Homo sapiens: one gene and its partners. The protein of the gene in region 1 interacts with the protein of each later gene in a biochemical or structural test. Each region holds a gene or a part of one and is shown on either strand. Other genes may lie near its edges.

Region 1 (4,289 bases):
ACATGGTAACCCCACAATGCAACACTGTGGTTAGAGACTTTATATAGCTGGGAGATGGAGGGCTGCCCCACAGATGTATGAACAGGTCCAATCTTCCATAAATAAACCTACAGAAGAGAGAAAATTACACTGGAATTCATCCTTAGACGCAGAGTACCCTAGATGGGAGGGGGCATCCTCACTGGTCAGGGGGCCAGGATGGGTGATGAGGGGGCCCAGATATCCACAGCATGGGGCAGGCAGGGGCAAGGATGGGGTCAACAGATGATGGGCATTTGCACTAGGACACTGCATTCACAAGACCAACTACTGAAGGGATATGTGTCTCAGGCTGTTCATTCTGGAATAAGCAGGGGTGATCTTTATATCACATTCTGTGGCTGGTGGGCTCAAAGGCTACTTTGTGGAGAGAATGAGACCATGCAGTGAAAATGAGGATCAGGATCAAGCCCACAAATAGCCCGGGCTTCTAGGCAGCACTGTGTCCCCCACAGTGCTGATGACATAGCTGGCTGCCGGGCCACTCAGGCCCACACTCAGCCTAGCGCTTGGCTGGAGGAGATTCCCGTAGAGGCTGATGCAGTCGATCAGCGAGTTGGGGATAAGGACTTCCATCACCAGGTTGTAGATGGTGATGATGCCAGCCATGACCGCTGGGACACTGGACTTCAGGATCAGCTCCAGCCGCATAAGGGCCAGGGCCACGAGGCAGTGCTGCTCTAGGCTGTGCCACAGACAGCACACAGGGCTGTGGGATGGAGGCAAGGCGAGCCCAGAGCAGAATCTGTTTACCTGGGGCCAGAACCCTCTGGGAATAGCTTCTGCACAGCTGTGAGGGCCACACCCAAGTTATCACACGCAGCAGGGAGCTGAAGGCAGCCCCCACCTAGGGGCAGGAAGTCCTCAAGAAGAACTGCCACAGCTGGGTGATCAAGGAGCCCAGTGTAGCTGTTTGTTTCTTTCCTTGAACTGGGCCCTCCAGCCCAAGAGAGTCCACCTCTTCCTCCAGCAGAGGTGCTTATGGCTAGCTGGCCTGTCTGGGCTCCCACTGTGCTATGAAACCCAATCTGTGCTGCTCAGCACTCCCCAAGCCTGCTGCACAGACCACATGCTCCCCTGGAGCCTCAGTGCCGCTGACCCAGACAGCTAGCTCTCATCCCCAGTACAGCTGAGGACACAAGCTCCAACAAGAAGTGTGGCTGGCCTAAGGTCCAATGGTAGAGCTGTTTCTGATGGAGCCGTTTCCTCCCCACTCCCAAATGCCAGGGCAGGGGGAGATAAACTGGGCTAGGAGACATAGGCAGACTTCCTGTCCAGCAGAGGCCTCAGTAGCCAAAGGCTCCATCAGCTGAGGCCTGGCAAGAGCTCTCTCCCATTCCAGGGTGCAGAAGCCTCAGGGAGGCAAGTCAGTGTGGTCACAAAGAGAGGAGATGCTGTCTTCTTTCTGCCCAGGTTCAAGGCCTGGGAGCCCTGCTCAGTTACTGCAAAACCCTAATGTTTATGCATCAGCTACTGCCAGGCCTGGTGGCTGGAAGACAGAGCCTCAGGCTCCAGTCCACCCCTCCCGTGGAGAGAGGTAACAATTGGAGGCTTGTTAGGGTAGCCAGGGCTGGGCCTGCAGGCCTGGACACAGCCTCTCTGAGCCCATGAATCTGGTCAGGAGGCCTCCCAGCCTCCGCCATCATGGGGACGTCGGTTACCAGACTGCAGACTGAGTGAGCGGCTTTATCACCTTTATGCCCAGGAGTGAGGTGGGGGAAGGGGTGAGGTTGCAGGCCCCAAGCCAACACTGCACACTTTCCTCTTTGTTCCAGGCCTCCCCAGCTTTGCCAGTCTTGGGGAAGCAGGGAGCTGGATGGCTGTACCCTTGGTACTTGAGCAGAGCTCTGGGCCGACACCCCGTGACCAGGAGGCACTGGGCAAAGCTGAGCTCCTTGAAGTCACAAGCTGATTACGGGGGATTTGAGGCTGGCCCAGCTCCGGGGCAAATAGGGTCGAATCCCTGGATGGCTCGGTACTAGACAAGGATCATCTTGGGGCTGTTTACATCATTTGTACACCCAGACTGGCCTTACAAAGGGTCTTTCCACTTAAAATAGCCACTTCTCTAATTTAGGGCACGGGGCCAGTCTCACCACATCCACTGGGGGTAGCCAAGTCTCTATTTACTGAGAAGGAAACCAAGGCTCCAAGGAAAGCCACTTCTTCAAGGTCAGAGTTTAGTGGGAACATCTAGTGTTTTGTTTCCATTCACAGTAGAGTTTCAGTTGTCAAGTTACGTCTAATCCAACTTTCAGGCTCCTATGGCATGGCAAGTCCTGTGTCTGGGGATTCCTGCTCATTTGGGGTGGGTGGAGGATGGCACAGACAGGCATGTGGAGAAGAAAGCATCTTTAAAAAAAAAACACAGCTAGGCCAGGCGCGGTGGCTCACACCTGTAATCCCAGCACTTTGGGAGGCCGAGGTGGGCGGATCACCTGAGGTCTGGAGTTCGAGACCAGCTTGACCAACATGAAGAAACCCCATCTCTACTAAAAAAAAATACAAAAAAATTAGCCGGGCATGGTGGCACATGCCTGTAATCCCAGCTACTCGGGAGGCTGAGGCAGGAGAACCACTAGAACCTGGGAGGCGAAGGTTGTGGTGAGCTGAGATTGTGTCATGGCACTCCAGCCTGGGCAACAAGAGCGAAACTCCGTCTCAAAAATCAAAACAAAACACAGCTCCATAGAACGCCTCAAATCTTTTGTGATAGCCTTATCTCGGACAAATCTCTTCCCTTCTCTGGACTCAATTTCCCCATTTGTCAAATGGAGGGCTGGGCCATGGCTGGAAGGCCCCTCCTGCTCTGGGTTCCTTCCACCCTCTAATGTCATCCTGGAAAGGCTGGCAGCATGTCTTGGGGTGGGAGGCTCAGTGTGTGATCTTGGCAAAGTCATTTTTTATTGGACCATGAGGTCACTGTAACTTGTATCACAGGGCAGTTGTGAGGACCCTTGGAGTTAATGGACATGAATGTCCCTTTCAAACTATCCCAAGGGTGACCCAAATTCAGAAAGGTAGGCAGGAAGCCTAAGGCAAAAAAGCAAAGCAAAGAAGCCCAAAGCAGCGCAGGGCACTCACATGAGCTGACCCTCCCTGGCCTGGCACTCTCACCCATGTGCCATGCCTACTCACTTCCCAACAAGCCCCTACTAGGAAGAATGGGTTAGTGGGAGCTTTAATGATTTACCTGACTTAATACCCATGGGCCAGCATCCTGACTCCCCAAAAGCTCATACTGCCAGAATGCCAGCTTTTGGATAAAGGCCAAGGCCCAGGTACAAGTCACCCACAGCCCAGGTAAGGCATCATGGGAGTCCAAGGAAGCAAGAAATATTTATGGAGCATCTATGGGGACAGAGACGTACATTCTTTTCTGAATTCCTAGACACTGTAATGATGAAAACTGGGCAACTAAGCTAAGCTGGGATTCAAAACCACATATGCAAACATCTATGTTTGGCCGGGTGCGGTAGCTCACGCCTGTAATCCCAACACTTTGGGAGGCTGAAGTGGGCGGATCACCTGAGCTCAAGAGTTCGAGACCAGCCTGGGCAACATGGCGAAACCCTGTCTCTACCAAAAATACAAAAATTTAGCTGGGCACGGTGACGCATGTCTGTGGTTCCAGCTACTCAAGAGGCTGAGGTGACAGAATCGCTTGAGCCTGGGAGGTAGAGGTTGCAGTAAGCCAAGATACTTGCCTGGGTGACAGAGTGAGACCTCGTCTCAAAAAAAGACAAAAAACAAAAAACTATGCTGTCTGCACCACAAAGGGGCTGAGAAAGCCTGCAGATTTCTGATTTTTCCTTTTCTGGAAGGTAGAGACTGGCCAGAAAAGTGATGAGTGATGGGCATAGGCAAGGCTAGTTACAAGTTCTTCACGAAGGGTGGGGTGAGACATCTGGGGCAGGGCTCACCCTTGCGTGCTGCCCAGGAGAGATCGTGGGCGAACCCCTGGCTTGTAGGCAAGGTGATTCCATCTGTCCCCTACTTCCTATTCAGCTAAGCTCATTACTGTGAGTTACAGAGGAGCACAATGGAACACGGGGAAGTTAGTTAAGTCAGTTCCCATTTCCTAGGAGACAAAGAGGAACATAGCAGAACCAAGGCTTTGGAGCCAGACACACCTGGTTTTCAGATCTTGTGTGAAAGGCAAGCGATATGACCTCCCCAGGCCTCTAACATCATGCACAAAAAGGCTGTGCTTGCAGGTCAAATCAGCAGTCTCCAAAGGGAAGGGCTTT
Region 2 (4,289 bases), on another chromosome or scaffold:
CATGTCACCCCAGCGTGGTTGGTTGTATAAATCGCTAGCATGCCCGGCTCATGGCAAATGCCGCAGGATCACTGCTGACCTCATGGGCTCGGGGCTGGCTGGATTGGGGCCAGTGCCTCGCTCTGACCACCTGACCAGGTCTCTGCCGAGCACCGAGGACCCAGGTGGCCCAGGCCACCTGTGGAGAGCTGTATGTCCGTTACCTACCCTCCTGGGAGTCCGACACCCGAGGCCTTCCCTCGGAGGCTCATCTGGTACATCTGAGCCATCTCCCTCAGGGTCTCTGCCGAGTACAGGCCAATGGGGTTGTTATATTGCCTCGGCTGGCTCGAGCCCGGCAGGGCTTTTGGGCCGAGTAGGTCCCGGGCCCCCTCTGGGCTGGTCTTGGCCCTCAGGCTGGCCCGCGGAGGGCCAGGGTCAGAGGCCTCGGCGAGTGAGGAGAAGGCGGAGGGCCGGGAGAAGGCAGGGCTAAAGGTGGGCCTGAGCTCCGGGGTGCCTGGGGTGCCTGGGCTGGCCCTCGCCTCAGGGCTGGGGCTGGGTGCCACCAGGCTGCCGTTCGTGTCCAGAGCGGGGTCCTGGCACAGGGCAGGCCATGCAGGGGAGAGAGAAGAGAGCGGTTAGAGGCCACACGCGTCCCAGCGCTCCTGCGTGGACCTGAAACAGATGTGTTAGCGCGAGCCCCGCAGCCTGAAGCCCAGAGCGCCTGGGCGCAGCACTTGGAGGGGAGGACACTGGTGGAGGAGCAGGCAGGCACATGGCTCCTGGCCTGGCGTGAGGCTGGCATCCAGCTGGGCAGAGTGCCAAGCCCTGCATGGAAGCCAAGCCAAGCTTCCTGCCCCCAGGGCCCGAGGAAGTGGGTGTAGGGGTCAGGGGATGGCCCGTTCTGTGTCTGTTCCCCCTGCCCCTGAGAGTGGGTGCCCAGTGGGCACAGCCCAGCCTCCTGCTCCACTGACCCCACACTGCCAGTGAGATGAAGTTCCTGGGCTGGTTGTGGGCAGGTGGTGGGGAGGTGAGGAGGGAAGCTGAGGAATTGGGTAGCTCACATTTGGGCCCCTCAGTCTACCTCTGCAAGCATCTCCCAAGCAGCCCTCCACCCACTTCCCCAGTCTGTGACCTACCCCACCCCTGTCAGCCTCTTTTTCTCCCCTCTCCCCACTGCCCTGCCCAATCTGCCCCATTGGACAGGTGGGGTCACTATCAGTTCACATAGGGGGAGAAGTTGAGCAGGGAGCCCTCGGGGGTTGAGCTGCTTGGCGGGGCCTTGGGAAGGGCCTAGGCAGTGGTGAGGTCTGGAGCCAGGGCTTGGCCTCCCTTCTCCCCTGTGCCTGCCATTGCCAGCACGTCCTAAGGGCTACAGGGGAATGCACTTGGGAGGGGCAGGTGGGGAAGTGGAAACCAGAGGGAGAGATCTGGGTGAGGCCAGCAGGCCCCTCCACACCTGGAGGTCCTCGTCAAGCTGGGCCTCAGCCACAGTCACCCAGCGGTGGCCCCCTTGGCAAATGAAGGTCAGAGCCTGGACGCTCGTCCCCTGCCTGGCCAGGAGGGTGACCCCTCTCCTGGGAACACTGCTGCCCAAGCTGGCTTCCTATCAGCCCAGCCACGAGGCATAGCGGAGGTGGCTTGCACCCAGGCAGGCATTCATTCCCACATCCAGTGTTCAACAGGGGCTTGAAAGTCTCTCCCAAGGGGCTGCCTCACTTCCCCAGGGTCAGCTGCAGCAGGGGCAGGGATGGGGCAGGGCTGATCCCACGGCCTCATCCCAGTTGGGCCAGCCAAAGACCAGGCAGGCTGGCCAGGGCCAGCACTCCAGGAACCAGGGCTGAGTGGACCCCGCCGCCACAGTCAGCACCTACCTTCTGGTGAGGGATCACCGGCAGAGGGGTCTGGACTGGAGGTGCTGTCGTGGAGATGGGAATGGGACGCTTTGATCTGTAGAAACCAGAAATGAGACCAGGTGAGGAAGTTGCCCCTGGGGCCAGAAGCTCCTGCCTGGGCAGGGCTGGTGAGGAGAGAGCAAGAGAGAGCCAGAGTCAGCTCTCAGAGATAGCTGAGTCAGAGGGCCCCAGATCCACTGTCCACCCCATGGGCTGGATCTCCCCAAGAAGGCCCTGGGCCCGACGAGGATGGAGAAATCATGGCCCCTGGGCATTTTGGTCAGAATCCATGGGCCCCTGCTACGTCACTGGGGGCTGCCTGGGCAAAGTGGAAGTAGGTAAGACCTGCCTTCCAGGACCAATGGCCCACGTACGGGCAGCACCAGGACCACCATCTCTGCCTTAACTGTAAAGTGAGGCAGTAATGTCTGCCTCTAGGTGCTTGACAGCGACTTGGGCCTGTTCATTCCTCTGGCCCAGGGCTGTCCTTATCTTCCTGCACAGTTTTGTAGCCCAGGGCGGGGCCCACTCAATTGCTATGGGACAATCCCTCTTTTGGCCCCTGCCCCATGCCCACACCCAAACCTCCGCCCCCTGCTCTGGAGAGCTCCCACCTACTTCTGCAGGGTGAGGCTCAAGTTGTAGCTGGCAGACTTGATCTTGTTCTGGGCTTCCAGGTGGGTCATGGTGTCTGTGTTGACGCCGTCAATGGCCACCACGAGGTCACCCTGGCTGAGCTGGGACTGGGCTGCCTTGCTGCCTGGTGTGATCTGATTGGATAGTGGAGGTGGGGGGTGAGCATAAGGAAGGTGGTCCTGAGGAAAGGCCAGTCCTTGGGGAAGAGTCACCCGGGAGTATTCAACAGAAGCCGTCATTGTGTTTTTCATTCGCTACGGCCAGTACCAGCTGCTAACCAAGCCTAGTTCCTCTTTCCGGCACATGACTACCACATTGCTTAGAGCTTTGTGTCTGACTGCAGCCTTGGGACTAGCTCTGGCCAACTGAATGAGGGTGGAAGCAATGTATGCTCCTTCCAGGTCTGCCTCTAGCAACCATCCTTGTGATCCTGCACACTCTCTGCTTGTTGACTGACTGAATGCAGGGCATGGAGAGGAGGAGAGATGATTAAGGAGCACTGTATTGGACGTTGCATGAATGAGAAACTTTTGTTGTTCTGAGCCATTAAGGTTTGGAGGCTGTTGGACATGGTGGCTCATGCCTATAATCCCAGCACTTTGGGAGGCTGAGGTAGGAGAATTGCTTGAGGCCAGGAGTTTGAGGCCAGCCCAGGCAAAGGAGCCCAGACCCTGTTTCTACAAAAATAAAAATATTTGGCAGGGTGTGGTGGTGCATGGCTGTAGTTCTAGCTACTCAGGAGGCAGGTGAGAGGGTCACTCCAGCCTAGGAGTTTGAGGTTACAATAAACTATGATCGCTCACCACTGAACTCCAGCGTGGGTGACAGAGGGAGACTCTGTCTCTTAAAAATTTGCAGGCATCTGCTGGGCGTGGTGGCTCACGCCTGTAATCCCAGCACTTTGGGAGGCCAAGGTGGGTGGATCACAAGGTCAGGAGTTCGAGATCAGCCTGGCCAATATGGTGAAACCCTGTCTCTACTAAAAATACAAAAATTAGCCATGCCTGGTGGTGGGCGCCTGTAGTCCCAGCTACTTGGGAGGCTGAGGCAGGAGAATTGCTTGAACCCAGGAGGCAGAGGTTGCCGTGAGCTGAGATTGCACCACTGCACTCCAGCCTGGGTGACAGAGGGAGACTCGGTCTTAAAAAAAAAAAAAAAAAGGGTGGCCAGGTGTGGTGGCTCATGCCTGTAATCCCAGCACTTTGGGAGGCTGAGGCAGGCAGATCACCTGAGGTCAGCCTGGCCAACATGGTGAAACCCCGTCTGTACCAAAATTACAAAAAAAATTAGCTGGACATGGTGGCATGTGCCTGTAGTCTCAGCTACTCGGGAGGCTGAAGCAGGAGAATCGCTTGAACTCTTGATTGAACCCAGGAGGTGGAGGTTGTAGTGAGCTAAGATTATGCCACTGCACTCCAGCCTGGGTGAGAGCGAGACTCTGTCTAAAAACAAACAAACAAACAAAAAACTGCAGGCTATTTGTAACCTTGATTAGCCTCTTATAACCCCTGCACCCTGCAAAGCTATGGAGCACTTTTCAGACTCCAGGAGAAAAGGGAGATGCAGCAGCTAAGACACAGCAGCATCCCAGAGACACTGCCAGGCTGAAGGGCAGGATAAATGCACCCACTCAAAAGCATCTTAGTGCCAGGTGCTTTGTGCTACCTGGCAGATGTGGAGAGAGTGAGGTAGCCGACAACCCTGCCTGGATGAGCAAACTCAGCTGGGAAATGGGGCAGGGCTTAGGGTTCTGTAGTTGATGTCATACCTCCAGAAGGC
Region 3 (4,289 bases), on another chromosome or scaffold:
GGGCAACACAGTGAGACTCCGTCCCCCACTCCAAAAAAAAAGGTGTTTTTTTTTTTTTTTTCTACAAAGAGCTTTGCTGATCTAATTTCTTCCTTTTTTTTGTTGTTGTTGTTGAGAAATGTTGAATAATAGAATAAGTTATATTTATAATTATACATAAATCCAATAAAAATAGTTTTTCAGAAGTATCTTGTAGTTGAACTTATTTGGATGCTCCAATACCTGGACAATTGACAATTGAGTTGAATCATTTTGATACAGGGTTTTTTTTGGTTTGTTTGTTTATTGAAGCTTTTCCTGCTAGTTTGAGATCATAAATAGGCATGCCTCTTTCTGAAGAATATAATAACCTTTTTTTTTTTTGAGATGGAGTTTCACTCTTGTTCCCCAGGCTGGAGTGCAATTGTGTGATCTTGGCTCACCACAACCTCTGCCTCTTGCATTCAAGCGATTCTCCTGCCTTGGCCTCCCAAGTAGCTGGGATTACAGGCATGTGCCACCACGCCTGGCTAATTTTTTTTTTTTTTTTTTTAGTAGAGATGGGTTTTCTCCATGTTGGTCAGGCTGGTCTCAAACTCCCGACGTCAGGTGATCTGCCCGCCTCAGCCTCCCAAACTGCTGGGTTATAGGCGTGAGCCACCGCGCCTGGACTACCTTTTTAATTTTTTTGAGGCGGAGTATTGCTCTGTCACCCAGGTGGGCGTGCAGTGGCGTGATCTTGGCCTACTGTGACGTCTGCCTCCCGGGTTCAAGCGATTCTCTTGCCACAGCCTCCTGAGTAGCTGGGATTACAGGCTTGTGCCACCATGCCCAGCTAATTTTTCTTTTTTTTATTATTATTATTTTTTTTTTTTTCCAGCTAATTTTTCTGTTTTTAGTAGAGACCGGGTTTCACCATGTTGGCCAGGCTGGTCTCGAACTCCTGACCTCAAGTGATCTGCCCGCCTCAGCTCCTGAAAGTGCTGGGATTACAGGTGTGAGTCACTGTACCCAGCCTAGAATATAACAACCTTTTTTTCTTTTTTTTGTGACGGAGTCTTGCTTTGTCATCCAGGCTGGAGTGCAGTGGCGCCATCTTGGCTCACTGCAGCCTCCGCTTCCCAGGTTCCAGTGATTCTCCCGTCTCAGCCTCCCCAGTAGCTGGGATTACAGGCACACACCACCATGTCCAACTAATTTTTGTATTTTTAGTAGAGCCTTGTTGGCCAGGCTGATCTCAAACTCTTGGCCATCTGTTGATCCGCCCACCTCGGCCTCCCAAAGTGCTAGGATTACAGGCGTGAGCCACTGAGCCCAGCTTAACCTTTTTTTGTTATTTCCAAAAGTAATACATATTTAAGGTATAGAAATTCAGAAGCCATAAGTAAGCAAAAAGAAAACACTTAAAGCGAGGGAGAGGGGTTGAAGACAAGTTGGTTAATTGGTACAGAAATAAGGTAGAAGGAATAAATTCTAATATTTGATAGTACAGTAGGGAAATTATAGTTAGAACAATTTATGGTGTATTTCAGAAGAGCTGGAAGAGAATTGTACTGTTCCCAATACAAAGAAAAAGTAAATGGAGCCAGGTGCAGTGGCTCAGGCCTATAATCCCTGCGCTTTTGGGAGGCTGAGGTGGGAGGATCACTTGAGGCCAGGAGTTCTAGACCAGCCCGGGCAGCATAGTGAGACCTTGTTCCTACAAAAAAATAATTATTCAGGCTTGGTAGCATGTACCTCTAGTCCCAGGTGCTCGGGAGGCTGTGGTATAAAAGGATCCCTTGAGTCCAGGATTCGAGATTGCAGTGAGCTATGATTGGGCCACTGCACTCCAGCGTGGGTCACAGAATGAGACTCTGTCTCTATAAAATAGAAAGAAAAGGTAAATGTTTAAGGTTACAGATATTTCAATTACTGTGATTTGTTTGTTTTGTTTTGTTTTGTTTTGTTCTTTTTGTTTTTTTGAGATGGGAGTCTCTCTCTGTTGCCCAGGCTGGAGTGCAGTGGCCTGATCTCAGCTCACTGCAACTTCTGCCTCCCGGGTTCAAGCGATTCTCCTGCCTCAGCCTCCTGAATAGTTGGGACTATAGGCATGCGCCACCATGCCCGGCCAATTTTTTTGTATGTTTAGTAGAGTTGGGGTTTCACCATGTTGGTCAGGCTGGTCTCGAACTCCCAACCTCAAATGATGGGCCTGCCTCAGCCTCCCAGAGTGCTGGGATTATAGGCATGAGCCACTGGGCCCGTCCAATGACTGTGATTTGGTCATTACACATTATATACATGTATCAAAATATCACACGTACCCCGAAAATATGTACAAGTACGATATGTCAATAAAAACATACACAAAGAAGTCACTTAAAATTATCTTAAACATCAGCATTGTGATATATATTTGTCAATATGTGTATATACACATATACAACTTTACATGCTATATCTAACTTTTTTATTTTTTTATTTATTTTTATTTTTTTTTTTGAGACGGAGTCTCGCTCTGTCTCCCAGACTGGAGTGCAGTGGTGCGATCTCCGCTCAGTGCAAACTCCGCCTCCCGGGTTCACGCCATTCTCCTGCCTCAGCCTCCCGAGTAGCTGGGACTACAGGTGCCCACCACCACGCTGGGCTAATTTTTTGTATTTTTGGTAGAGACGGGGTTTCACCGTGTTAGCCAGGATGGTCTCGATCTCCTGACCTCGTGATTCGCCCGTCTCGGCCTCCCAAAGTGCTGGGATTACAGGCGTGAGCCACTGCGCCCGGCCCTTTTTTATTTGAGACAGAAACACTGCAATCTCCACCTCCCAGGTTCAAGCGATTCTTGTGCCTTAGCCTCCCAAGTAGTTGGGTTTACAGGTGTGCACCAACATGCCCACCTAGTTTTTGTATTTTTAGTAGAGACAGGGTTTCACCATGTTGGCCAGGCTGGTCTCGAACTCCTGGCCTCAAGTGATCCACCTGCGTTAGCCTCCCAAAGTGCTGGGATTACAGGCATGAGCCACCACACCCGTTTCTTAACAACAAAAGAGTGTGAAGTTCTTCCTCACAGAAATATTCATTTTCATTATCACTGACACAGCAGCATAGGATTCCTTGTTTGGATGTGCTGTAACTCAGTCTCCTGTGTATTAGATATCTAGGTGTGGAATCTGGGCTTTAATATACATCACACTTAAGATGCTTTTATGGGGCCCATGTGGCTGGGCACGGTGGCTCACACCTGTAGTCTTAACACCTTGGGAGGCTGAGGTTGGGCAGATTGCCTGAGCTCAGGAGTTTGAGACCAGCCTGGGCAACATTGCAAAACCCCATCTCTACTTAAAATACAAAAAATTAGCTGGGCATGGTGGCACGGGGCCGTCTGTAGTTCCAGCTACTGCGGAGGCTGAGGCAGGAGAATCGCTTGAACCTGGGAGGCGGGCGTTGCAGTTAGCCGAGATCACACCACTGCACTCCAGCCTGGGAGACAAAGCGAGACTCTGTCTCAAAAAAATAAAATAAAATTTTAAAAAATGCTTTTATGGATTTAAAATTGTTTTTTCATTCTCCATGGGAGTTAAAAAGTAGAAAGTAGAATCATGAGTGGACATGCGTTTTAATAAATTGGAGGTTTGTGTAATTTCAGTAACGTAATAATACCAGCTCTATTAAAAATGAAGAAATGGACCTTTTGTACTGGGAAGTAGTTGTAAGTCCACGTATTTGTCTTCTCACTGGTGTATATGTGTAAGCCCAATAATTGTGTTAGTTTATGTAGTTTCTTGTTTTTTTTGTTTTTTTTTTTTAGTGTCTATAAGTCAAGTCTTTGGTGTTAAAGATTTTAACTATCATTTGCTGTAATTCTTAGAAAGCCGAGGGACTAATCATTTATGTTTCGTGCATAAGGAAATGGGCGTTAGCTTCCCCAAGACCCCAGGAGCCAGGCATTGTTCTTACCCCAAAGCCTCAGGTCAGACTTCTGCTGCTTCACGTTAGAAGTCATGATCTTTTGTATTATGGTAAAGGGAGCTTGGAAAATTAAGTACTTTTAATTCCATTTAATGTTTCTTTCAGTCTTGAATCCAGATAATAGTTTTGAAATACTGGTTGACCAATCTGTGGTGAATAGTGGAAATCTGCTCAATGACATGACTCCTCCTGTAAATCCTTCACGTGAAATTGAGGACCCAGAAGACCGGAAGCCCGAGGATTGGGATGAAAGACCAAAAATCCCAGATCCAGAAGCTGTCAAGCCAGATGACTGGTGAGTCTTGGGGAACTGTCTTCAAGTGTAAGGGAGCATTTCATATATTCCATGTGGCTTGAACAAC
Region 4 (4,289 bases), on another chromosome or scaffold:
AATTTTAATTAATTGAAATTTACACTTGTCTTTTTGGTTGGTCTGTTTCTTTAATGACGCAGTCTCACTCTGTCATCCAGGCTGGAGTGCAGTGGCACAATCATAGCTCAATGAAGCCTTGAACTCTTGCACTCAGGTGATCCTCCCACCTCAGCCTCCCAAGTAACTAAGATGACAGGCATGTGCTACTATGCCTGGTTAATTTTTTTTTTTTTTTTTTTTTTTTGAGACCGAGTGTTGCTCTATCACCCAGGCTGGAGTGCAGTGGCACAATCTCGGCTCACTGCAACCTCCGCCTCCCGGGTTCAAGTGATTCTCCTGCCTCAGCCTCCTGTATAGCTGGGATGACAGGTACATGCCGCCACTCCCAGCTAATTTTTGTATTTTTAGTAGAGGTGGAATTTCACCATGTTGGCCAGGCTGGTTTCGAACTCCTGACCTCAGGTGATCTGCCCACCTTGGCCTCCCGAAGTGCTGGGATTACAGGCATGAGCCACCGTGCCCAGCAATTTTTGTAATTTTTATTTTTGTAGAGACAGAGTCTCCCTATGCTGCCCAGGCTGGTCTCAAATTCCTGGGGTCAAGCGATCCTCCCTAATGTTGAGATTTCAGGCATGAGCCACCACGTTGGCCTGAAATGTACAGTTGAATGGCTAGTGGCTGCTCTAGGGGGGCACTGCAGGCCTAAAGGAAGCGGGTAGCCGGGCCAGGGTGGAGGGCTAAGATAACAGAGCTTTCCCAAGCAGAGCCCAGAGCCCAGGGAAAGGATGCTCCATGCAGAGTCTCGGAAGTGAGAAGCGAGGGAACTGGGAATGGTTGTGAATGGCTGGAGGAAAGAGGCAGGAGGGGGTATAGTGGGAAGTGCAGGAAGTAAGGGTTCATCCCAAAGGTGCGAACTTCATTCCGAGAGGGCTCCCTTTCTCTGCACTTCTGGTCTCAAAGATGGAGAAGGGAGACACATGGGGTGACCTGGCAGAAGCTGGGGAGTCAGGGCCCCGAAGTGCCTGACCTTGGCTGATTCTCCCTGTTACTCATCTAACACTTGCTTGTAGAACAGCAGGCCCTATGCGGGGACCGGGGACTCAGTAGGAAAGGAGACTGATAAAGTCACTACCCTACCCTCAGGCAGGTTTCATAATGACTTCCATGAACCTTAGGCACTTTTGCCCTTCTGCATTAAAAAAAAAAAAAATAGGCCAACACGGTGGCTCATGCCTGTAATCTGAGAACTTTTGGGGAGGCCAAAGTGGGAGGATCGCTGGAGCCCAGGAATTTGAGATGAGCCTGGGCAACATAGCAAGAACTCGCCTCTGCAAAAAAATTTAAAAATTAACTGGATGTGATTGTGCCTGCCTATAGTCCCAGCTACTCAGAAGGTTGGGGTTGGGATCGCTTGGGCCCGGGAGGCCAAGGCTGCAGTGAGCCGTGTTAACGCCACTGCACTCCAGCCCTGTCTCAAAAAAAAAAAAAAAAGTTTAAATTTTATGACTTTGTTGCTGCAAAGACCGATATTATCCAGGGTACAATTTTCTCTTTTCTTTTTTTCTTTCACTTCTACTTTGAAAAGAAATGAAAACACTTCCCCTAAAAGCATCATGGGCCCTAGACACTGTAGGTGCGATGCCTGGGATACATCAGCCCCGCCTTCAGGGAGTTTCTAGGCTAGTGGAGGAAACAGACAGCAAGTAAACAAGATGGTTTCTGGGGAAGAGAGATGCTGTGAAGAAAATGGGACAGAGGGAAGTGCAGTCTGGGTAGGGGGCCGGGGAAGGTCTCGCCGAGGAGAACTTCGCGCTGAAAAGGAACTGTGACAATAAGAGGGAAAGCTGTTGCCGAGAGAACCAGGGCTCGCAGGTGTTCTCCAATGAGGGTAGACCTGGGGCTGACAGAGGAGAAGGAAGAGGTGGGGGTGGAGGTGGACCAAGGGAGCAAGTGGGAAATGGGGGCAGGGCTGGGTCCCGCCTGCAGGACCTGTCTTCGTGTGGGCTTCCCTAGAACGGGAGCCGGAGGTGGGGATTCCTGTACCAAGGGTTTGCTACGGGGGAACCTTCAGGGAGTGTGGGAGACTGGCTGGGGTTGTGGAAGGAAGTCAAGCAGACACGGTTCACGCTGGAGTGGGAACCCATGGGGTCAGGCTGGGCACCCCGGCTTTAGTGCTGCCTCGGGCCTCCGTATCCGTCCATCGTGGGCTGTGGGCTGCTCCAGGAAGCAGGGACACATAACGGACTGGGCGAGTCCAGGACTCTGAAGGAGGGTGATTCTTAAGGGCTGCAGGCAGGTGACCCTCCCAGCAGTGGGTGAGGGATGGGATGCTGCATCCAGGGGGAGGGCAGCTGCAGGGGCACCAGCAGTGCCTGCCATAGAGGGTCTTGTAGACCAGAGTTGGGAGTTTGGTCCCCTCTGATCTCCTCCTAACTGACATGGGATTTCAAGCAGGGGCAATAGCATGCTTTTTGAAAGATGCCTCTGACTCTTGTGTGGAAAACAGACTGGAACAGGGTGGGGGATCAAGGATGGCAGCAGGGAGATGAGGGAAGAGGCTGCTCCATCCCGGAGAACACTGGTGGGGACCTGGATGTGGGCAGTGGCTGGAGGAAGGAAGCAGATCAAGAGTCGATGGAAAATCTGCTTTCTTCTCCTTTCTTTCTCCTTCCTGCCCAGACTTGAGGCTTTTCATTCCCGCAGAATTCCCTTTCGCCTTCTTTTCTTTTTTTTTTTTTTTTTTTTTTTTTGAGACAGAGTCTGGCTCTGTCGCCCAGGCTGGAGTGCAGTGGTGTGATCTTGGCTCACTGTAGCCTCCACCTCTCCACCTCATGGGTTCAAGTGATTCTCAAGCCTCAGCCTCCCGAGTAGCTGGGATTACAGGCGCCTGCCACCATGCCTGGCTAATTTTTGTATTTTTAGTAGAGAGACGAGGTTTTGCCATGTTGGCCAGGCTGGTCTTGAACTCCTGACCTCAGGTGATCCTCCTGCCTCAGCCTCCCAAAGTGCTGGGATTACAGGCGTGAGCCACGTTGCCCGGCCTCCTTCCACCGTCTTCACACTGCTCTCCCTTACGGCAGGGGCTTAGGGAAGGAATGGGGGCAGCCGTATAGTGAAGCCACAAGCCTTTCTGCGCTGACTGATCTCTCTCTATCTTTTCTCTCTCTCCCCCTCTGACTGCCGCTCCAAAGTCGAGCTTCGATCCCCACCACCGTGCCCAGCCAAGTTACGAGCGTCCTTCTTTCCTGCCTCCAGGACCTGGGTTGATGCTCCGGCAAAAATCTATCGGTATGCCACCCAGAAGAAGAGATGTGGGGGCTGGGGGAGGCCAGGAACGTGACAGTTCAGGAAAAGCAAGCAGACTTGGAAATGTTCTGTGCTCCCAGAGAGACCATAGTTTCATCAAATTGGGTTAAGAGTTCAGGCTTTGGAAATGGGTGAACTTGGCCATGAATCCTGGCTCCCCTCCTTCCCAGCTGTGTGAACTGGGGCAGGTGGCTTGACTTCTCTGGGCCTCTGGCTCTACATCTGGAGAATGGGGATGCAGTGAGCTAAAGCCCCCGCTACAGCTTTCTGGTTGTTTCTCTTATACCCGATTCCATCCATTCATTCATTTTACAAGTGTTTACCAAGCGCTCCCCACATGCCAGGAATTGTTCTAGAATGGGGATACGTCAGCGAATAAAACAGACTAAAGGTTCCTGCCCTCATGGGCTTGCCTTATAGCAGGGGAAGACAGATAATGGATTATAAGGAAAATAAGCAAGAAAATTATCTAGTATGTTAGCAGTTGTACGTGCTATGGAAAACAAAAAAAAGAGTGGGCCGGGCGCAGCGGCTCACGCCTGTAATCCCAGCACTTTGGGAGGCCGAGGCAGGCAGATCACAAGGTCAGGAGATCGAGACCATCCTGGTTAACATGGTAAAATCCCATCTCTACTAAAAATACAAAAAATTAGCCGGGTGTGGTGGCGGGCACCTGTAGTCCCAGCTACTCAGGAGGCTGAGGCAGGAGAATGGCGTGAACCCGGAAGGCAGAGCTTGCAGTGAGCCGAGAACGTGCCACTGCACTCCAGCCTGGGCGACAGAGCAACCCTCTGTCTCAAAAAAAAAAAAAAAAAAAAAGAGTGAAAAAAAATAATGGAGTAAGGTAAGAGAGATAGGGAGTGCTGGGTAGGGGGCAGGGTGCAGGTTTGAGCTAAAACCTATAGATGGGCCAGGCACAGTGGCTCACACGTGTAATCCCAGCACTTTGGGAGGCCGAGGCAGGCGGATCACAAGGTCAGGAGTTCAAGACCAGCCTGACC
Region 5 (4,289 bases), on another chromosome or scaffold:
GTCTTGGGACCCTGTAGAGAAAAGACTGCAGGGAGGGAAAAGTGGGAGAGTGAGACAGTGGACACTGTGGCCACGGAAGAAAACATCCAGTGAGAAATCCCCAGGAATGGTCAAGGAAATTTTGAGAGTGACCTCAAGCAAATTGCTTCCTGTTTTCTATTGCGTGCTATGATCCTTTCTCTGTGACCCCCGCCTCTCCAGTGCCCAATAAAATTATGTCGTGCTGATTGCTTTTATGGAAATGTTTGTGGGAGAAGGATCTGCTGGCCACGTGGGACAGACCAGAGCAAACAGAGGAGGGCAGCTGCAGAACGGCCTTGTCTCCAGGAGACGGTGCTGTTGGGGGCAGGTACAGGAGGGAGCCCTGTATTCTGCTGAGGCACACAGGGCATGAAAGATGACCTGTGGGAAGTTCCTTGCCTGGGCTTCCCTGAGGACACCCCAGTTCCTTCTCCAGACGCCTTACTCGGGAATATTCCCTGACCCTATGTGGCTCTGCCAAGGGCATCACTGGGACAGACCTGCTGTGGCAACTGCACTCCTTTTCTGGGCCTCCAGGAGGAAGGCAAAATGACTGGCTTCTCAGCTGGCTGCTCCTGATTTGCCCTTCTGGACTCATAGGTCTCAGGCCCAAGGGAAAATGAAATATGGGCTTAAAAGAGGGGGTGGGAGAACAGATCCATCTGATAACTCCATCATGTGTTGCTAACCAGCCACATCCTGCCAGCGCTCTGCAAAACTGCACTTCCTTTTTAGTAACCTGGCTTCCTCCTCCCTCCTTCACTTTCACCCCTCCTACTCAACATCCCGTCTCCACCGCTACCCCTCCTGAAGCTTGCCAACCCTCACTGTAGATTGTTTTAGGGGATTTCCAGAGGCCCCCTCCCACCTGCCCACGGTGTGCTTAAGGGAAGGGCCAGGGCCCCTGCAGGGCCATTCCGTGATGGGGGAGACAGCTTCTGGGTAAGGATGGGAAACTCAGCATTGCATAGTGGGTAACTGTGACCCACTAGCAATGTGAACTTGAGCGAGTTTCTCAGTTCCCTCTTTGCACAACTGGGACTCTCACCATCAGGTGGTTGTAAGATTTAATTGACACAATGTACATGAAAGTACTCAGTGTGGTTAGCCTGCGCATAAAATGGTTCTAGACACAGCAGCTGTCTGTCAGTCAGTCTGCCTTTTATGCAAGGGGTGGAAAGGAGGGCTTTAAGGGGCCTGATGGGGAAAGATCATGGCAATGAATGCTAATATGCCTGAGATGCTGTCAGGTACTTGCCTTAAGTGGTTACCTTTAATCCTCACAATAGCCCTTGGAAGGAGCCACTCCTCCCGGGTTTAAGCAATTCCCTGCCTCAGCCTCCTGCGTAGCTGGGATTACAGGCACCTGCCACCATACCCGGCTAATTTTTGTATTGTTAGTAGAGACAGGGTTTCACCATCTTGGCCAGGCTGGTCTTGAACTCCTGAGCTCATGATCCACCCGGCTCAGCCTCCCAAAGTGCTGGGATTACAGGCATGAGCCACCGTGCCAGGCCCCTTTTTAGTTATTTAAGCCACTATTCTCCCTACAAGCAGGACACTCAAAGATCCACATGCAAAGACTGAGACCCTGCAGGGGCCCTGGTATTTTTCCTTCATGGTGAGTGAAAAATGACACAAGAAAGGAACCTTAAATTCCAGTGTGTTATGGGTGGGAACCCAGATGCCAGCAAGCAGGACTGGGACTTCAATTATCTGTCAACCTTCAAACCCATCTTTTCATGGTCAGTCCTCAGCTGAGTCCTAGGCAACAGTTTCTCTCTGGTGGAGCAGGAGAAACTTTCATTCTGGCCCTGCTAACACTAACTTGCTAATTTGCCCATGCTCAAGATTTGAGTCTGGTCCTGGAAACACTCAACCTGTGGACCCATCCTCTTACCTGGCCACAGGTGGGTGGGGTGTGCCCAGAAGAGCATGAGGAGTTCTCTCTCTCTTCCAGACTCTTCTGAGGGTCACTGTCACTTTTAAAGTATTTTCTGGGTGGAGGCTTGGGCTTGGAGGACATAGGCTTTCTCACCAAAATCTCAAAGGATTTCTTCAGTCTCAGCGGCGGGTGGCTGTCCCGGCTCTCTGGGAGGGGTGGGCTCTCCTGGGGCAGCCTGGAGGATGCTATAGAAAGCACCACTGGCTCCCGTGCCAGAGGCAAGCTGGGGCTGTGTGTGCTGATGTCCACGTCAGAGGACGGCTTCTCAGCACTGCCACTCCCAGGACTTCCCCCTGGGGACCCAGACATGTAGCTGCTGTCACTGCTGGAGCGGATCATGACCTTCTGAGCCCTGCGATGCGGGGGTGCTGAGTTCTTCTCTCGTTCCTTCTCCAAGGTGGGCCGCCCGTGCCAACTGCTTTCCAGCCTTTTGACACCTGTGTGGGAAGCACAAGAGAATCTTCACAGCTGAGCTTCAGAAAACAGAAATACCCCCTGGCCTCACCTGTGACTGCCACGGGCAGCACACTGCACATCGGCCATCTGCTTCTTATCTGAAGTCACTGTGGATCTGGAGTATGGCAGTCTTGGTGTTGGTCCCTGGCGAGCTGTATGACTTTGGGTTGGGAAAATCATTCAAGCTTTCTGAGCCTATGACTGATGTATATGGAGATATGCCACCCAGATCACCCATCGAGGAAGGGCTTGGTGTCCCAGCTGTGGGGAGTGCTGCTGGCAGACTACTTTCAGCTGTGGGTCCCTCCAGGGGCTGCCACAGCTGCAGACAGCTGCCTTGTCCAATGGGGCAGCCCATCTCCAGGGACTGCTGGAGATAGGGTTACAGAGGCCCAGCTATGTTGGCCAACATAGGACAACTCTAATGGGGACTTTGGCTGCAGAGCTCCAGGGCTTGGCTGAAGCTGTTGGGTGTGCACCTCAGCTCCGTCCTCCCTCTGTCTACCCTGCCTGCTCCCCTCCCTGCCACAGGTAGTGAACCCCAGGACACTGCCTGCAGACCAAACTCCATCTCAGAGTCAGCTTCCTGGGGGACCCAACTCCATTTCTGCATCTGTAAAATGAGGATGATAATTTTAAAGTCACTGGGGTTATTTTGAGGCTCAATAACAAAGACAGAGAAACTACCTGTCAAGGCACTTTGAATCTTACACGAAGAAGTCACTATTTCTTTCCAGTTGAGGGTGAGGTGAGGGCAGAAAGCCGCTATTTCTTAGCCACTGCACCTTCCTCCCTCCCTCCCCATTAGCCCTTCCTGGTTCTCAGTACCCCCTACCCTAGTTTCCAGCACTAGGGCTACCCACACATCCTTGAGAGGCCCTTCTCTCTAGTGGTAAGCTGTCAAGGGTGCCCCTTTCCTAAAATCACAGCTTGAAGGGGTGGGAGAGGATTGAAATCTAGTCTCTTGCTCAAATTCCAGCTCATTCTGAGAGACCAAGAAAGCCAGAGGAGCCCCATGAGAGAGAACCAAGGCCAGCCAAGCTCCTAACTCACTTTCTCTTTAAATAAAAAGTTTTCTTTTTTTTTTTCCTGATCATGAAATAATGCATCCTCCTTAGAGAAAACTCAGCCACAAGGAGGAAGGAATGAAAGTAAAAATTCACTTCACCTGTGTTCCTATCAGCCAGAAATAACTACTGTCAAAATTTTGGTGAGTTTCTCTGTCATGCTTTCCCGAGCATATATGCATGTTGGGTGGGTAGAAATAATAAACCAGAGCTGAAATAAATTGTGTTCTGTTCTTTTCTCTGAACATTTCCCCAGATCATTTAATTTCTTGTCAATATCAGTGCCAATGGTTGCATGTTGTTCTTTCATAAGGATGTTCCATGGTAGACGTGATTAATGCCCAATGGCTAGGCATGGGAGTCAAGCCAGCTGGATCTCCATTCCAGAGCCTCTGTGCTCTAGTGGTATGACTTTGAGTAAGAGAGTCTCTGAGGGCCTCACTTTTTCTTATAAAATTTGCATAAAAATTATGTGTGAATGCATGAATTAGCATAGTCTCTGATTTATTATAAGAATTATAAGAATTAAATAAATGTCAGAATTATATTCCCAAATGTTAGTTTTTCTAATATTCTATTATTATAAACTAGGGGCTGCAAACTCAAGTGCCTGCAGGGGCTATTGTGTGAATGGCAACTTGGTACAGGATAAAGGGAACGGTGGAGACCACCGGGAGCTGGAGAGAGCCTGGCACATTTGTAGCAATTTAAATTCAGATGCTTTTAAAATCTTGTGTCTTCCAAACAAAGCAAAAATATAAGCTAAATTTAGCTGGTGGGCTGCTAGTTTTCAGCCTTTG
Region 6 (4,289 bases), on another chromosome or scaffold:
GTTCTCAGGCAGAGGTTTTTGCTTTGTTTTATTTTTTTCTTTTTCTTGAGGGAAAAACCGTGTCTATTCAGAAGGCTTATTTGTGGACAGGACTACAGGTCAATTTCCTGACTCTTTATGGAACGTTGTTAACCTTGCCCCTTGGAGTTGGCTCTAAACCTCAGGCCAGAAATCAACCCCACTCACCAATACTCAGCCAACTGTGATATTTGCAAGGATGAGGCAATGGTTTTCAAACAGGTTGGTCATCAGATCCCATGGGGGCAGGGATTCAAAATATAGATAGAGCTCCACAACCCATCTCAGATCCACCAAAGACAGCCTATACAGTGAAACCCAAGAACCCATACCTTTTTAAAGCTTCCCAGAAAATGTTAATGCTCATCAGGTTTGGAAACACCAAGAGAGATGATGACTATGACTATCTTTTCCCCTTAAACTCTCTCCCTGAATGAAGTTAAAGTCATCAGGTAGACAAAAAGTAATTAGACCCTAAAATCTCAGCTCCTCCAGAAACACCTTCAAGGGCAGAACTTATACTCCTATAAAATACATACAAAGCCCTTGAAAGGAATATCCATTAGAATAGTATTCCTCTATCTCTTACCAAAACAGACTTAAAAAAAAAAAAATAGGCCAGGCAGGGATGGCTCATGCCTATAATCCCAGTACTTTGGGAGGCCACAGCAGGAAGACTGCTTAAGCCCAGGATCTTGAAACTAGTCCGGGCAACACAGTGGGACCCTGTCTGAACAAGAAATTAAAAATTAGCCAGGCATGTAGTCCCAGCTACTCAAGGAGACTGAGGTGGAAGGATCGCTTAAACTGGGAGGAAGTGGAGGCTGCAGTTAGCTATGATAGCACCACTACACTCCAGCTTGGGCAATAGAGCAGGATGCTGTCTCAAACAAAACACAAACAAAAAAATACAGCCCCTGTAATGTTGGTTAACACCCCTGAAAATGCTATGCAAATGAAGCATTGCATAAGTAATTTTGTTGTTTTTTTTAAATAGAGATGGGGTCTCACTGTGTTGGCCAAGGTGGTCTTGAACTCCTGGCCTCAAGCAATCCTCACACCTCGGCCTTCCAAAGTGCTAGTTTCACAGGCATGAGCCACTGCGTCCAACCAGTAGAAGTATAATAACTCCAAACAAGATATCTAAATAACTCGACGTGGGTCCTATTTTCCCTTGGCCAGAAAACTCACAGCTAAATGTAGTGTGCAATTACAGAACCAACTGATTTAAAGTTCCTGGCACTTCTCTCTCTTTCCTCTTCCATGTTCCAATTTTTTGTTAAATCTTATATGTGTTCTTGTGTTTTAAATATTGTAAATGTGTAACTAAGTGAAAGACAAGCCTAAGACAAGCCTGCAAGTAAGTGAAAGAGACAGCCTAAATAACGATAGTAATAATTATATACAACTGGGATAAAGAAATGTGAGATTCAAGTTCAATCGCAATGCTACATGCCTTTAAGCATAATCTCCGCTGATTTAACAGTTGTGTCAAGGTATTTGGGTACAAATTTAACAGATTCTAAACTGGGGATAAAGCAGGACCCAGCTCTGTAGGATGCCATTTACATGTGGAATTTGAACTCTCTTTAGTCAGAATCTTCTGACTCAGTATGTTTGTGAGCCGAGGCTGTGGCACAGACTTCACAGCCATATTATGGCTGCAGAAGCTGTATGCATTTACACAGGGTGACCTGAAAACATAACACTGTTTTAAAATGTTCTTGGTTAGTCTATAACCATTTTCTCAGGGAAATGAGGCAATAAAATAGGGTAGATGCTTGTAGATAAGTTGCACCTTAATCCAGCTTCACACTATGCATGGTGCAAAAAGAAGTTATTAGTGCTAAGGGGTGACAGTTCAAAGAGACGTGCTGCTCTCTCAGTCTGAAAGACCGACCACCATTTCTCAGACAGGAATATAATAAAACAGGTAGCCAAATAGAATACTCTGACTAAATTCTTAAGAAGTCATCGAGGCCAGGCGTGGTGGCTCATGCCGGTAATCCCAGCACTTTGGGAGGCCGAGATGGGCGGATCACTTGAAGTCAGGAGTTCAAGGCCAGCCTGTTCACCAACATGGTGAAACCCCATCTCTACTAAAAATACAAAAAATTAGCCAGGTGTGATGGCGCACGCTTGTAATCTCAGCTACTTGGGAGGCTGAGGTGGGAGGATCACTTGAACCCAGGAGATGGAGGTTGCAATGAGCCGAGATCATGCCACTGCACTCCAGCCCAGGCGACAGAGCGAGACTCCGTCAAGAAGTCGTCGAGTTCCTCAAAAGTTTCCAAACAAGCTCCTATGAACCCTACGTGCTTTTAAATAGCTCCAACAGCTACCACCCATAACCCAAAGCCTAAACACTCACTAAACCTTGAGGGAATTACTCTCTCTGACTCAGTATCTTCATTTATCAAATGAAATTTATAATGCATCAACCTCATCAGGTTGCTGGAAGGCTTAAATGAGACTGCATTTGTAAAGAGTTCAGAACAATGCCTGGCACGTAATAAACACTCAATATATAGTAGCTACCATTAATATTTTTAATATTTAATAGTTTAATAGTACCACTAGGCTCTCTCTATATATCATCTTAATCCTCACCACAACCTTTGAAGACAAGCGCTATTATTCCCACATTGCAAATGAGGACACTGAATTTTCAGGGGTTAACCTGTCCAAGAACATACAAGCTAGTAAATGGACAAGATAAGGTTTGAACTAGATCTAGCAGATATCAAAAATGTATTTTTCCCTTGACATTAAGATGTCTTTAATTCTTGATTTGTTACAGTAAAAATAAGGCAGAAAGCACAAAGCAATGAAGTCCCAATAGTTCACTGAGATATAGTAATTTGGTTTTAGAAATGCTACGTGTGCGGAAAAAGTCTGGAAAGGTTTGCAGCCAGCTGTTCACTGTGTTTACCTCTGTAAAGTAAGACTGGGGAAGCCTTTTACCTTATGCTTTCTGTAGGTTTATATTGTCCGATCTTTTAAACAATTACGCGGGCTTCTATGTAACCTTTACTGAAGGATGACATGTATACAGCACAAATGGTAACGATACAGCTGATTGAATTCTCACATACAGAGCACACCCAAGGAAACAGCATGGGATAAAGAAGAGGACATTACCTGAACTGCTAAACCTCCCTGTGCCCGCCTTCCGTCACTGACCTTCCGGCAAAGGTCTGCCATGATCCTGACTGCTAACACTGTAGATTAATTCTGTCTAATTTTATGTAACTGGAATCACACAGTATTTACTCTTCACTCTTAGGTATGGCCTTTTTCTCTGTGTGTGTGTGTGTGTGTGTGTGTGTGTGTGTGTCTCCTTCATGTCACTGTGCATAGTTGTAATTTCTTCACTCTTGTTGCTGTGATGTTTTATACCATATAATTACACCCACTACTTATCTATTCTATTGCTGTTAGACATGTGAATCGTTTCAAATTTGGGGCTATTATGAATAGTGTTGCTTGGAAAATTCTCAAACTTGTCCTTTAGCACTCATGTGGACCCAGTTTCTATTGACTATTTAACTAGGAGAACTGTTGGGTTATATGGTATGGGTATGCTCAGCTTCAGAAGCATAAGTATTTTTTATTATTTTTTTAAAGAAATGGGTGCAAACTATTTGCTGCATCAACCATATTTAATCTATCTGTATGCATTTTTTTTTTCTAGATGGAGTTTCGCTCTTGTTGCCCAGGCTGGAGTGCAGTGGCGTGATTTCAACTCACTGCAACCTCCGCCTCCCAAGTTAGAGCAATTCTCCTGCCTCAGCCTCTTGAGTAGCTGGAACTACAGGTGCCTGCCACTACGCCTGGCTAATTTTTGAATTTTTAGTAGAGACAGGGTTTCACCATGTTGGCCAGGCTGGCCTCAAACTCCTGACCTCAGGTGATTCACCCACCTTGGCCTCCCAAAGTGCTGGGATTACAGACATAAGCCACCAAGCCCAGCCTCTGTATGCATTTTCAATATCTTTATCTAAACTAGGTCCTATCTATGTTCTTATTGTCTTACTTGATACGAATGGTCGTGTCTATAAAAATTAGTCCCTGAGTGTTCAGTAAGGAATCTGGCCTCCTACAAGACCGCTGTGTTCTTCACAAAATCATTTTTAGTATTTATGGCATTTACCAAGGAGACAGTGTATTACACATGGGAAAGTGCACCACAGAACTCAGCCACGGATGAGCAGCCCAATTTGCCCAGGATGTGGCTAACAAGAGTATCAATAATCACACAGGGTGCTAAC
Region 7 (4,289 bases), on another chromosome or scaffold:
CTCCCAGAGGAGCTGGCCTTTCTCTCCAGAACAGTGGGAGAGCACAGGAGGTCTGGGAATAGAGGATCAGAGAGCAGCAGGAAAGTGCCGAGACAGGAACAAGGGCTGCAGCTCTCCCAGCTCCTGGCAGGTCACCTTCAACATCCATGTGCTCTTTTCCAATATGTTTCCTTCAGAATGCAGTGTGTGTGTGTGTGTGTGTGTGTGTGTGTGTGTGTGTGTGTCCTGCCAGGATCTCAGTTCTGCTTGGAAAGACCCTCCACACTCTCGGTGGAGGAATGTATGAGGAACCTGATAGAAACACAGCCACCAGATCCCCTACCTTCTGATGTCAGGGTCCCTTGGACCCCAGAAGGCCTTGCAGGGCCACAGACGGCCTGTCTGTCTGGTTCTTCTTGCTTCAAGGCCTCCTTTAATGCAGCCTCAGGATCAGTGATGACATAGCCACTTCGCTCTGCCGGGCACTCCTGTCAAGCCCTTTCCTTTTTTGTAAATTCTGTCCCTCCCACAGGGCCCAGCCCATTTGCCCCCTCTTCTGGGAAGCCTTCCCTGATTCCCACTGTTGGATGAATCCCTCCCATCTGCTTGCCACAGTTGTCTGAACCTCCCTTGCAGGCCTGCCACGATGCCTAAAATTTGGTCCATGGAATCTGTATCTACCTCCTCAGAAGTGTACAGGGACCCTGTTTCACTCATGTGCCTTCCTCTCAAGCTTGGCCCCAGGCCTTGATCCCCGGGAGGCACTCAGGAGCTGCCTGCCGTGTCTGCAGACCTGCAAGGGACGGCTCACCTGACGGGGGGCCTGGGGGAGTGAGCTTATCAGCCGCGTCATAGTATTCCTCATCTGAGCTGCCATCCTCAAAGGCCAGTGGTGGGTGCAGGGCCAGGGGTTCCAGCATGGAACTGGGCTGGGCCTCAGTCCAGCCCTGCTGACCCCAGGCTGGCGGGGCTCCCCCTTGCCGGGAAGCTGTACTCTCGGAACTGTCACTCAGGTAGCTGGCCGGGGAGACACTGGAACACAGGCTGTAGTAGTCAGCGTGGCTGCCTTCATACAGCCTGGGGTCCAGCCTGACTGTGCTCAGTTCTGGTGCCCAGCCAAATGTCTCCAAAGCAGCACTCTCGGAAAACTCTGTCTTCTGGCACTGGGGGTTGGCTCTCTGGGCCAGGTCCAGGAGACAGAGGAAGCCACTGGTTTCAATCCCGCTTCTCTCCTCCTGGCTGTCAGAGTCAATGCTCTCTGCGAGGCCTGGCGAGCCAAAGTGGAAGAAGGTGGACCTGCTGGAGGAGCAGGTGTCTAAGTCATCCTCTTCCAGAGCGTCCATGGACTCACTCGAGCCACTGGTCCTGTAGCCGCGGCTCTCAGTGTTGGCTGAGTCGGACGCCTCGGACTCGGCACTGTCTGTCGTGCTGCTGGCCCCGCAGGTGCTGGGGCCCCTCCTAGCCACCTCAGGTGTGGGGCTGTTCCCAGGAGGCTGCTCCTCCTTTATGAGTGATCTGCAGGGTGCCAGTTTCACCAGGCGCCTGTCAGAGAGAGGTTCGAGTACGCAGTCCACCTCAGAGGACTCCTCTGAGTCACTGCAGGCCCTGGATTCATAGCCTGCAACACAGGGTACAGCAACAGTTACACAACAGAATTCTCCTACCTATGTGTCCTTCTAGCCCCCTGACCCCCACCCAACCCTGCCAGACGAGAAAACTGAGGGCCAGAGGGTGGCTGGCCTAAGACCGTCCTATACTGACGAACACGGGATCCGAGGGACTCCAGCTTCCATGTTCTCCCCATGCTATCAGACCGCCTGTCCCACATCTCTCTGAGCTAAAGGAGGCTGGATTAACTCCATCCCCACCTCCAAGGAGAACTGTCTGTTCATGGAAATGTGGTATTTACTTTGATTCCTCTTTGTGTGGGCAGCACTGCCCAGGTTTGCTAAGCCCCTCCCCAGACCTCAGTTCTATCCTGCCTGGGCGTCAAAGTCAGATGGGGAATCATATTTTAAAAATACAACAGATCCTTGGCCCTACCCCTGATGTACTGAGTCAGATCGCTAGAAGTGGGGCCTGAGAATCTGTATTTTTAGCAATTTTATGACGAGTACGAGGCTGCTAGGCTGGCACCATTCTAAAGCCTGGCCTTCTGGATCCATGGGTGCTATGGGCTTTGTAGGACAGTGAAAACTCATCCAGCGGCAGGTTCTCAGGAAGGATTAATGGTAGGAGGCTGGGGAGCACTGAGCCAGGTTGCAATCTCTTTATTCCTGTAAGCCTCCAGAGTGATCTTTCTCAAACTTCTCTCTGACCTCATCACACCCTGCTTAAACCCTCTGATGGCTGCCCTGCTTACGGGGAAGAGCCTGGCCTCCCCCACAACAGTTACAGACTCTCACAGTATGGCCTTGTTGCCCTTCTCACAGGATGGCCATGGCGCCTCATGCACAGTCTAGTCCTCCCTTGCCTCAAAGGATGGCCCTAAGGCCTCCTCTGCAGGCTCTTCCCCCTCTCCCAGGATGGCCCTGAACCCTCCTCTGCAGTCTAGTACCCACGACAGGATGGTCTTGACACCTCCCCTTCAGTCTAGTGTCTCCCTCACAGAATGGCGCTGAGGTCTCCTCTGTAGTCTAGCTGCCCTTCTCGTGGTGGGGCTCCTATCTCTTTTCACCATCTCCCTTTTCCCCTCTTGCAATATGGTCCAGCCCCTCCTCAGGCACCCAGTCCCCCATGGCAGCCTTCCCTGCCACGTTCCAGCCACCCATAGGGAGAGCTCCTTTCAGGTCATGGCCTTTTCCTCGGGTCATTCCTCCAGGCCCCCTCGGCCTTGAATGATCTGTCTTCCTTTTCCGTGCCTGGTTAACTCCAGCATGTTCTTCAAGATCTATTTCCAATACCTCTTCCTCTAGAGAACTTTCTCTGACAGGCAGCAGCAGTCCCCCCCACAACCCCTCCACAACAGCCCTGTTGCCACTCTGCGTTGTCTCCCTGAGCAGACTCTGAGGAGTCACCCCTCGTTCATAAATACATTGTGTAACAACAAAGGTAACAGGCTGGGCGCCGTGGCTCATGCCTGTAATCTCAGCACTTTGGGAGGCTAAGGTGGGCAGATCATTTGAGGTCAGGGGCTCGAGACCAGTCTGACCAACATGGCGAAACCCCATCTCTACTAATGTACAAAAATTAGCCGGGCGTGGTGGCAGGTGTCTGTAATCTCAGCTACTTGGGAGGCTGAGGCAGGAGAATCACTTGAACCCAGGAGGTGGAGGCTGCAGTGAGCCAAGATTGCACCACTGCACTCCAGCCTGGGTGACAGAGAGAGACTGCCTCTAAAAAAAATAAAAATAAAAACAAAGGTAACAGATACTCCAAACTCATCACTTTCTAACTGTTTTACTTATTGTATTAGTACCTATTCTCTTGAGCTGATTTCTACTTTATCCATATAGAGGAAACACTCTACAGTGGTGTGCTATTGATCACCTCTTCCCATCTCCACATTCATCATGGTATCATCATATCGTGGTAGCCTGAAATTACCCATCGTGAGAATGTTGACACCATGGAATTGGGCAATTCCTTCAAACTGTTTTTGTCCCTCTGCAGGGAGTTGTTAAGCATTTATCAGCACAGCCCTAGGTTCATGCTGCATCAATGGTGCTGAGGCAAAAGCCTGGCAGAAACTGGGAGCTGGCCTAGGAAACTGTCTTACCTGCCTTGCAGAGAAGTTCTTTTATACTTCAAGAGATTGCAAAAGAGTGCATAGGTAAGGAAGAGAAGCCAGGTCATCTACTTCCTGAACAAATAAGTGACATCTCTTTTTGATGAGAAATAATGATAATCTTTTTTTTTTTTTTTTTTTTTTTAAGATGGAGTTTCGCTCTTGTTGCCCAGGCTGGAGTGCAATGGCACGATCTCGGCTCACTGCAACCTCCACTTCCTGGGTTCAAGCGATTCTCTTGCCTCAGCCTCCCAAGTAGCTGGGATTACAAGCATGTGCCACCATGCTCGGCTAATTTTGTATTTTTAGTAGAGATGAGGTTTCACCATGTTGGCCAGGCTGGTCTCAAACTCCTGGCCTCAGGTGATCCACCTGCCTCAGCTTCACAAAGTGCTGGGATTACAGGCGTGAGCCACAATGCCTGGCTGAGAAATAATGATAAAATGCAGTGGATCTGAGAGACAATCTTAGGAAATACAGCAGGGAACTAGAGCTCTTCCACAGCATTCCTTGGTTTCAGGAAAATTTCAGATACAAAGAAAGCTTCTTTGTTTAGTATTTATGAAAGATCAATTGTTTACTA

What was found.
Region 2: the proteins of SLC2A1 (region 1) and LDB3 interact in a test that uses a peptide from one of them, tested with the Homo sapiens proteins (one large-scale study listed by IntAct).
Region 3: the proteins of SLC2A1 (region 1) and CANX form a complex in vitro, tested with the Homo sapiens proteins (one study listed by BioGRID).
Region 4: the proteins of SLC2A1 (region 1) and SHANK1 interact in a test that uses a peptide from one of them, tested with the Homo sapiens proteins (one large-scale study listed by IntAct).
Region 5: the proteins of SLC2A1 (region 1) and IL16 interact in a test that uses a peptide from one of them, tested with the Homo sapiens proteins (one large-scale study listed by IntAct).
Region 6: the proteins of SLC2A1 (region 1) and PDLIM1 interact in a test that uses a peptide from one of them, tested with the Homo sapiens proteins (one large-scale study listed by IntAct).
Region 7: the proteins of SLC2A1 (region 1) and FRMPD1 interact in a test that uses a peptide from one of them, tested with the Homo sapiens proteins (one large-scale study listed by IntAct).

What each region holds. Positions count from the first base shown.
Region 1 is NC_000001.11:42,951,824-42,956,112, forward strand, and holds part of SLC2A1 (solute carrier family 2, facilitated glucose transporter member 1), read right to left. Parts: intron 1-4,289. UniProt on the Homo sapiens protein: Facilitative glucose transporter, which is responsible for constitutive or basal glucose uptake. Has a very broad substrate specificity; can transport a wide range of aldoses including both pentoses and hexoses.
Region 2 is NC_000010.11:86,677,722-86,682,010, reverse strand, and holds part of LDB3 (LIM domain-binding protein 3), read right to left. Parts: intron 2,645-4,289; coding exon 2,493-2,644; intron 1,930-2,492; coding exon 1,854-1,929; intron 576-1,853; coding exon 208-575; intron 1-207. UniProt on the Homo sapiens protein: May function as an adapter in striated muscle to couple protein kinase C-mediated signaling via its LIM domains to the cytoskeleton.
Region 3 is NC_000005.10:179,712,073-179,716,361, forward strand, and holds part of CANX (calnexin isoform d precursor), read left to right. Parts: intron 1-3,826; coding exon of another isoform or gene 3,827-3,928; intron 3,929-4,032; coding exon 4,033-4,222; intron 4,223-4,289. UniProt on the Homo sapiens protein: Calcium-binding protein that interacts with newly synthesized monoglucosylated glycoproteins in the endoplasmic reticulum. It may act in assisting protein assembly and/or in the retention within the ER of unassembled protein subunits.
Region 4 is NC_000019.10:50,670,999-50,675,287, reverse strand, and holds part of SHANK1 (SH3 and multiple ankyrin repeat domains protein 1), read left to right. Parts: intron 1-3,173; coding exon 3,174-3,270; intron 3,271-4,289. UniProt on the Homo sapiens protein: Seems to be an adapter protein in the postsynaptic density (PSD) of excitatory synapses that interconnects receptors of the postsynaptic membrane including NMDA-type and metabotropic glutamate receptors via complexes with GKAP/PSD-95 and Homer, respectively, and the actin-based cytoskeleton.
Region 5 is NC_000015.10:81,290,670-81,294,958, reverse strand, and holds part of IL16 (pro-interleukin-16), read right to left. Parts: intron 2,404-4,289; coding exon 1,922-2,403; intron 1-1,921. UniProt on the Homo sapiens protein: Interleukin-16 stimulates a migratory response in CD4+ lymphocytes, monocytes, and eosinophils. Primes CD4+ T-cells for IL-2 and IL-15 responsiveness. Also induces T-lymphocyte expression of interleukin 2 receptor. Ligand for CD4.
Region 6 is NC_000010.11:95,280,662-95,284,950, forward strand, and holds part of PDLIM1 (PDZ and LIM domain protein 1), read right to left. Parts: intron 1-4,289. UniProt on the Homo sapiens protein: Cytoskeletal protein that may act as an adapter that brings other proteins (like kinases) to the cytoskeleton. Involved in assembly, disassembly and directioning of stress fibers in fibroblasts.
Region 7 is NC_000009.12:37,737,386-37,741,674, reverse strand, and holds part of FRMPD1 (FERM and PDZ domain-containing protein 1), read right to left. Parts: intron 1,598-4,289; coding exon 791-1,597; exon of another isoform or gene 323-790; intron 1-322. UniProt on the Homo sapiens protein: Stabilizes membrane-bound GPSM1, and thereby promotes its interaction with GNAI1.